Homo sapiens: one gene and its partner. The protein of the gene in region 1 purifies or fractionates together with the protein of each later gene. This does not show direct contact. Each region holds a gene or a part of one and is shown in the gene's direction. Other genes may lie near its edges.

Region 1 (3,822 bases):
TTCTGTTTTCTTTAAACCTCCTAGTTTTTAAGGCCAGCTCACTGATTAATTGAGCATCTATTGAACATCAACTTTGCCCAGCTGATGCCCATTGCATTCTGCCCTGATTAGTAGTCAGAAAATTTGATTAATTGCCCTGAGATTCTCAGGGTTAGCACTCCTCAACTCAGTGCATTTATGATTGGAAGGGTTCAGACTGGACCACGGATTGCTGTGGCCCAAGGATACAAACATACGGAGACTGGGGAGTAAGAAGATCAAAAGACACAGCAGGGTAAACTAACCACCCAGCTGCGTGCACTCCGCGACCTTGAGCTTCAGCCTTTCTGAGTGAATAGGTTCATATCTGTTACTTAAAAGTGTAACTTACTCTTTTTCATGGAATAATTTCAAATTAGCCTAGTATACCTTATTCCATGGTAAACCCAGAATAAATATTTATTGAAAGACTGAATGAAGGTTTTTAAGCATTTTAAAAGCACTCTCTAGTCTAATCCACAAAATGTGTTCTTCATTCAGAGGCTCAAGATGTGTTGCTCGGTTTGAATATATTGGAGAGCAGAAGGATGAGTTGAGTTTCTCAGAGGGAGAAATTATTATTCTTAAAGAGTATGTGAATGAGGAATGGGCCAGAGGAGAAGTTCGAGGCAGAACTGGGATTTTCCCCCTGAACTTTGTGGAGCCTGTTGAGGATTATCCCACCTCTGGTGCAAATGTTTTAAGTGAGTATAGAGAATTTTTTTTATTATGTTATGTCCTAATTCAAATAAACCAAATAATATCATTATACTTAAGCTGTATAATAATCCATATTGCCATATTTTTACGGTAGAAGGAAAACTGATTTTAAAATGGGAATTTGTGTGGGATAGACATTATTTGTGGGCATCTCTCAAAGAGCTGGTTTTGGTATTTTAGGTAATTAGCAATAGCTTCATATAAGAAATGGCAAAGAGGCTGGGTATGATGGCTCAGACCTGTAATTCCAACACTTTGAGAGGCCACGGTGGGCGGATTGCCTGAGACCAGGAGTTCAAGGCTGCAGTGAGCTATGATTGTACCACTGCACTCCAGCCTGGGCAACAGAGCCAGACTCTGTATCTAATAAATAAATAGCAAAGACTTTTAAACAGAAATGAACTATAGACTGTTACTAATGTATATAGACTATAAATAGTTGTGTTTACAATTAACTAAACAAGCTCAGTGAAGTTAGTACAGGTTAACGCAACATAGACAATACATGAAGAGACCGGAGTGGAATCCCAGAGTCTTCACTCCCACCTCCCACCTCAACCATTTGTTTTTAATACTATGTGGCCTTCACATCTAATGTTCTGACTTCTTGTGTTTGTTTGTTTTTTTAATGTAGGCACAAAGGTACCACTGAAAACCAAAAAAGAAGATTCTGGCTCAAACTCTCAGGTAGGCTGCTTGAACAGATGACTATAGTGACAGCCAGGTTCAGACTCTGGGAGGAATATTAAAATCATAATTTTCAAGAGAATATAGTATGAATTAATTTTTCAATTCATACAACAAATGTTTGTAATAAATTCTTAGATGGTTAATATATTTTATATAGAGAGCTCATACAAAAACATGTAAACCCTGATAGAAAATGAAAACAGAGACTGGGCAGAGTGGCTCATGCCTGTAATCCCAACACTTTGGGAAGCCAAGGCAGGTGGATTACCTGAGGTTAGGAGTTCGAGACCAGCCTGGCCAACATGGTGAAACCCTGTCTCTACTAAAAATACAAAAATTAACCAGGCATGGTGGCGTGCACCTGTAGTCCCAGCTACTTGGAAGGCTGAAGCAGGAAAATAGCTTGAACCTGGCGGTGGAGGTTGCAGTGAGCCAAGATAGCACCACTGCATTCCAGCCTGGGTGGCAGTGCGAGACTCTATCTCAAAAAAGAAAGAAAGAAAATGATAAAAGAGACATGATTAGAGAATTCATAAAAGAGGCTGTGCGCGGTGGCTCATGCCTGTAATCCCAGCACTTTGGGAAGCCGAGGCGGGCGGATCATGAGGTCAGGGGATCGAGACCACCCTGGCTAACACGGTGAAACCCCGTCTCTACTAAAAATACAAAAAAAATCAGCCGGGTGTGGTGACCAGCGCGCGTATTCCCAGCTACTCAGGAGGCTGAGGCAGGGGAATGGCGTGAACCCGGGGGGCAGAGTTTGCAGTGAGCCAAGATTGCGCCACTGCACTCCCGCCTGGGAGACAGAGCAAGACTCTGCCTCAAAAAAAAAGAAAAAAAGAAAAAAAGAATTCATAAAAGAGATACCATAAGTGGCTAATATTGAAAAAATATTTAACCTTTCTAATAATCAAGAAAATATATAATAAAGCAGCAATAAAATACCATTTAACCTATTCAGTTAACAAAGATTCAGTGCAGCTCAGCACTAAACAAGCAATTATAAGCATGTGAGTGTTAAAAAAAAAAGAGAGAAAGTACACATTCTTATTTGTCACCCTAAGAAAAGGATAAAAAATGAGATAGGGTTTTAGTCACAAAGATGAGCATAGTGCTAATATAATAAGAAAAAATTGGAAACAACCTAAATATGACCATTATTGGGAGAATATTCTAAAGCTATGAAAAACTAGATTTATCAAATAAAATAATGTTTTTAAATGTCATGAGAGGAAACATAGGGAAAGGGGATATAAAATTGAATATATAGCATAAAAAGACTGGAAGGAAATTATTCAAGTTACTAGTATTAAATTGCATCTAGGTAGTGAGATTATATATACGGGTAGGTTTTTTTCCCCCACTTCTTTTTTTTTTTTCTTTTTTTTGAGACGGAGTCTTACTCCGTCGCCCAGGCTGGAGTGCAGTGGCGCAGTCTTGGCTCACTGCAACCTCTGCTGCCGGCTTCAAGTGATTCTCCTGACTCAACCTCCTGAGTAAGCTGGGTTTACAGGTGCCTGCCACTGTGCTTCGCTAATTTTTGTAGTTTTAGCAGAAACGGGGTTTTACCGTCTTGGCCAGGCTGGTCTTGAACTCCTGACCTCGTGATCCACCCACCTCGGCCTCCCTAAGTGCTGGGATTACTGGCATGAGCCACTGCGCCTGGCCTTCTCCATTTCTTTATACGTTTCTCAACTTTCCAAATATTTAGGAACATTTGTTTCATTTGTATAATGAGAAAGAGAAAAATAGTGGGTTAAAATTTTTACACTGTTCAGCATGACCCCAGAAATGCTTAAAGGTACTAGGAATGTGGTGCCTTCTGTTGTTTTTAGTTTTTTGTTGTTTTTGGTTTTATTTTGGTTTTTTTGTTTTGTTTTGTTTTGTTTTTTTGAGACAGGATCTCACTCTGATGCCCAGGCTAAGTGCAGTGTCGAGGTCTCAGCTCACTGCAACCTCTGCTTCCCAGGCTCAAGCAATCCACCTCAGCCTCCTAAGTAGCTGGGATGACAGGCACACACCACCACTCCCAGCTAATTTTTGTATTTTTTGTAGACAGGGTCTCATTTTGTTGCCCAGGCTGGTCTCAAAATCCTGGGCTCAAGCGCTCCACCTGCCTCAGCCTCCCAAGGTACTAGGATTACAGGGGTGATCCACCACATCCGGCCTTCCATTGTTTTTTGTGACAAATTTAGAAGAGTTAAGCCTGATGGGATCATTGTGTTTGTGAAAATGTCACTTGTAATTGGCCTGTGTGTCCCTTAATTCTTTATCCCTACCCACTGATAAAGTGAAACAGGAAGGAAACTGACTACAGTTCTCCAAAAGGAAATGTTCACATGGTTGTTGCCTGCATTTTTGGAGAATGATAAGTTCCATCCTTTAGGGTTGGTT
Region 2 (3,822 bases), on another chromosome or scaffold:
TTGAATGAGAAATTTTTTCCTCACTCATAATTGTCATCTTTATTATCTACCTTTTTGTCTAATTGTCACCTTTGTCTATCTTTTATCATATAATATACAAAATTCCTGTTTATATATACAGTATATACAGGTCTGTTTTGGGACTCTGTTTTGTCTCAGTGATACATTTGTCTCCATTCTCAAACCATGTTGTTTTATTACTACGTTTTGTAATATATTTTGATATCCAGTAGTGTATCTTCTCCTTTATTATTCTTCATTCTATTTTATTTATTTATTTATTTATTTATTTATTTATTTTTGAGACAGAGTCTCTATCATGCAGGCTGGCGTGCAGTGGCATGATCTCGGCTCACTACAACCTCCGCCTCCCAGGTTCAAGCGATTCTTCTGCCTCAGTCTTCCCAGTAACTGGGACTACAGGTGCGGGTCACCACGCCCAGCTAATTTTTGTATTTTTAGTAGAGATGGGGTTTCACCATATTGGCCAGGCTGGTCTCAAACTCCTGACCTCATGATCCACCTGCCTTGGCCTCCCAAAGTGCTGGGATTACAGGCGTGAGCCACCGCACCTGGCCTATTTTTTTAAAGATGAGATCTTGCTCTGTTTTCCAGGCTAGCTTGCAGTGGCATGGATCATAGCTCACTGCAGCTTTGAACTCAAGCGATCCTTTCACTTCAGTCTCCCAGGTTGCTGGGATTACAGGCATGAGCCACCATACCTACCTCATTGTTCATCATTTTAAAAATTGACTTGGCTATTCTTAAAGATTTTTACTTTATGATGAATTAGATTCACCCTGTCTAGTTTCTAGAAATCTGTTGGGAATCAGTTTAGATTGCATTGGATTTACAAATGGAATTATGAATAGAATTGACATCTTTTTAATTTTGCATTTAATTTTCCCATCCAGTAACTTTGTATATCTATTTATTCAGGTCCTCATTTACATGAAATAGAAGTTTAATGTTTTTCTTCATAATACTCCTATACATGTGTTGAAGCCTACCAACCAAAATGTACCAGGAACACATTTGTAGTCAAAAAAAGGTTAAGTTTATTTAGCTTGCTGCATAAAGAGAAAATATACCCCAGAAGAACTGCGGGAGCATCTCATCAAGGGGAATTAGAAGGGCTTCTCATAGGGTTTAGGCTTTAAGCAGATGATTCAAAGGAGGATTAAGGAAGCCAGAGGCCAGCAGGACATAGTGGCTCATGCCTGTAATCCCAGCACTTTGGAAGGCTGAAGTGGGAGGATCACTTGAGGCCAGGAGTTCAAGACTAGCCTGTACAACATAGCAAGATCCCATCTTTACAAAAATAAAAATAAAAATTTAGCCAGATGCAGTGGTGCACACCTGTAGTTCCAGCTACTTAGGAGGCTGAAGTGGGAGGATAACTTGGGCTCAGGAGGTGAAGGCTGCAGTGAACCATGATCATGCCACTGCACTCTAGCCCAGCAGACAGAGTGAGACCCTGTCTCTTTAAAAAACAAAAAGAAGCAGAGGCCAGTTTTGGATCATCATCCCTCTGGAAATAATATGCTTCTAAAATGCTCAGTTTTGAGTACGTGATACTCTTATTGTCTCCTCAGTTAAAAATGATTTATTAAAATGAAGTCTTGCTCCTGTAGCAGTAGTGAATATTACATGCTTTATAGTGAGTGATTTATTAATCAGTTTTATCTGGTAACAGTGATAATTTCTATGTATACAAGTGGAAATTGGATCGCCTTTTGATGTTGTATTTTTCTATATGTATCAGCCTAGTGGTTGCATTAAAATTCATTTGTATTTCTTCCCCCTGTAGCAAAATCCTTTATATGATACAGAAAGATGCAAGGTATTCCAGTGTGATCTGACTAAAGATGATCTTCTGGATCATGTACCGCCAGAGTCTGTGGATGTTGTTATGTTGATATTTGTGCTGTCAGCTGTTCATCCTGATAAGATGCACCTTGTCTTACAAAACATTTACAAGGTTAGTGATTTGGGGCCTGCACTTGAGGGTTGGACAGTCTGGATTCTTTTACTTACCTTCCCTCATGAGGCTCATGTACTGTCTAGATTCACATAGTCTCTCCATTCTCACTAGGTAGGCTGTGTAGTGAGTGTATAGAAAGGGGTCCTCTGGCATAAAACATCCACCCTAAATTCTGATTTGTGCAGTGCCATGGCTGCTCTTCAGAGCTTCGCCAGCCCTGGGACAAGGATGATTTTGCAGTTACCTGGGATCCATGGAGTCCTGCTATAAGGTGAGAGGAGTTATGGTTTAGTGGTCAAGAGTACACAGTTTGGCCAGGTGTGGTGTTTCATGCCTGTAATCCCAACACTTTGGGATGCCAAGGCAGGTGAATCACTTGAGGTCAGGAGTTTGAAACCAGCCTGGCCAACATAGCAAGACCTTGTCTAAAAAAAGCTAATGTATGATCATTGGCAGATCACTTAACCCTGTTGAGTATTGGTTTCCGTGTCTCATGTGAGAATAATAATCACATTCCTTTGTCCCACAGTTGGGTGAAGATACAATGAGAAAATGTATGGTTAAGCAGTCAAATGCTAGGCATGTATCAGTCATTAGCACCGTGATTGAGCTATACATTGTGGCACAATGAAATGAGAGCTGAGGCTCAGAATGAGGAAAACCAACCTGAATCAGTAAAGAGCCAAAACGACATTCTGGTTTTTTGTTTGTTTGTTTGTTTGTTTTTTTAAGAGACAGTTGAATACAGTTTGAGTACTAGGAGATGGTGAATAAAATGTTGCAAGAAAGTGCTTCAATGAGGATAACACTTTCATTTATTGTCTCTAACACTTATTTATTTATTTTTGAGACAGGGTCTTGCTGTGTCACTCAGGCTGGAGTGCAGTGGCATGGACGTGGCTCACTGCAGCCTCAACTTCCTGGGCTCAAGCAGTTCTCCCACCTCAGCCTCTGAAGTAGTTGGGACTACAGGACGCACTACCAGATCCAGCTAATTTTTAATTTTTGTGTAGAGATGGGGTCTCACTATATTGCCCAGGTTGGTCTCTAACATTTTAATCCTGTGACACTGGACATTCCAGGGTGCTCTTGGAGGTACTCAAGAATTGTCTTCAGGGACGAGCGAGGTGGCTCACGCCTGTAATCCCAACTTTGGGAGACTGAGGTGGGCAAATTACTTGAGGTCAGGAGTTCGAGACTAGCCTGGCCAACATGGTGAAACCTCATCTCTACTAAAATACAAAAATTAGCCGGGCATGGTGGCGGGCACCTATAATCCCAGCTACTCGGGAGGCTGAGACACGAGAATCACTTGAACGTGGGAGACGGAGGTTGCAGTGAGCTGAGATTATGCCACTGCACTCCAGCCTGGGCGACAGAGCAAGACTCCATCTCAAAAAAAAAAAAAAAAGAAGTGTCTTAGTGTTATGGAGCCCTGCCTGGTCTTACTATCTTTTTAAGTAGTAGGCCATTTTGGTTCCGTATTATGGGCATTTCAGTCTGTCCCCTTAGTAACTATCACAAATTTATTTTAAGTCCTAACTTAATCAGGTTTTATTTTGACAGGGTTCTCCAAAGTCATGTTCAGCCTGCTTTTGTTTCATAGGTATTAAAACCAGGCAAAAGTGTCTTGTTTCGTGACTACGGACTGTATGATCATGCCATGCTTAGGTTTAAAGCCAGCAGCAAACTTGGAGAAAACTTTTATGTTAGACAAGATGGGACCAGATCATATTTTTTTACTGATGGTAAGATGAATGGAATCCAGTCTTTAAATGTTTTATTCTTTGTTTCTGTTTATTTGATTGCATTATCACTGCAAGGCTGCTTGGAGAAGG

The links.
Region 2: the proteins of SH3D19 (region 1) and METTL6 fractionate together in Homo sapiens (co-fractionation; one large-scale study listed by BioGRID). This does not show direct contact.

The regions. Positions count from the first base shown.
Region 1 is NC_000004.12:151,129,934-151,133,755, reverse strand, and holds part of SH3D19 (SH3 domain-containing protein 19), read left to right. Parts: intron 1-519; coding exon 520-722; intron 723-1,372; coding exon 1,373-1,425; intron 1,426-3,822. UniProt on the Homo sapiens protein: May play a role in regulating A disintegrin and metalloproteases (ADAMs) in the signaling of EGFR-ligand shedding. May be involved in suppression of Ras-induced cellular transformation and Ras-mediated activation of ELK1.
Region 2 is NC_000003.12:15,413,931-15,417,752, reverse strand, and holds part of METTL6 (tRNA N(3)-cytidine methyltransferase METTL6), read left to right. Parts: intron 1-1,810; coding exon 1,811-1,981; intron 1,982-2,095; coding exon of another isoform or gene 2,096-2,119; exon of another isoform or gene 2,120-2,134; intron 2,135-2,169; coding exon of another isoform or gene 2,170-2,255; intron 2,256-2,838; coding exon of another isoform or gene 2,839-2,944; exon of another isoform or gene 2,945-3,590; coding exon 3,591-3,732; exon of another isoform or gene 3,733-3,807; coding exon of another isoform or gene 3,808-3,822. UniProt on the Homo sapiens protein: S-adenosyl-L-methionine-dependent methyltransferase that mediates N(3)-methylcytidine modification of residue 32 of the tRNA anticodon loop of tRNA(Ser), including tRNA(Ser)(UGA) and tRNA(Ser)(GCU).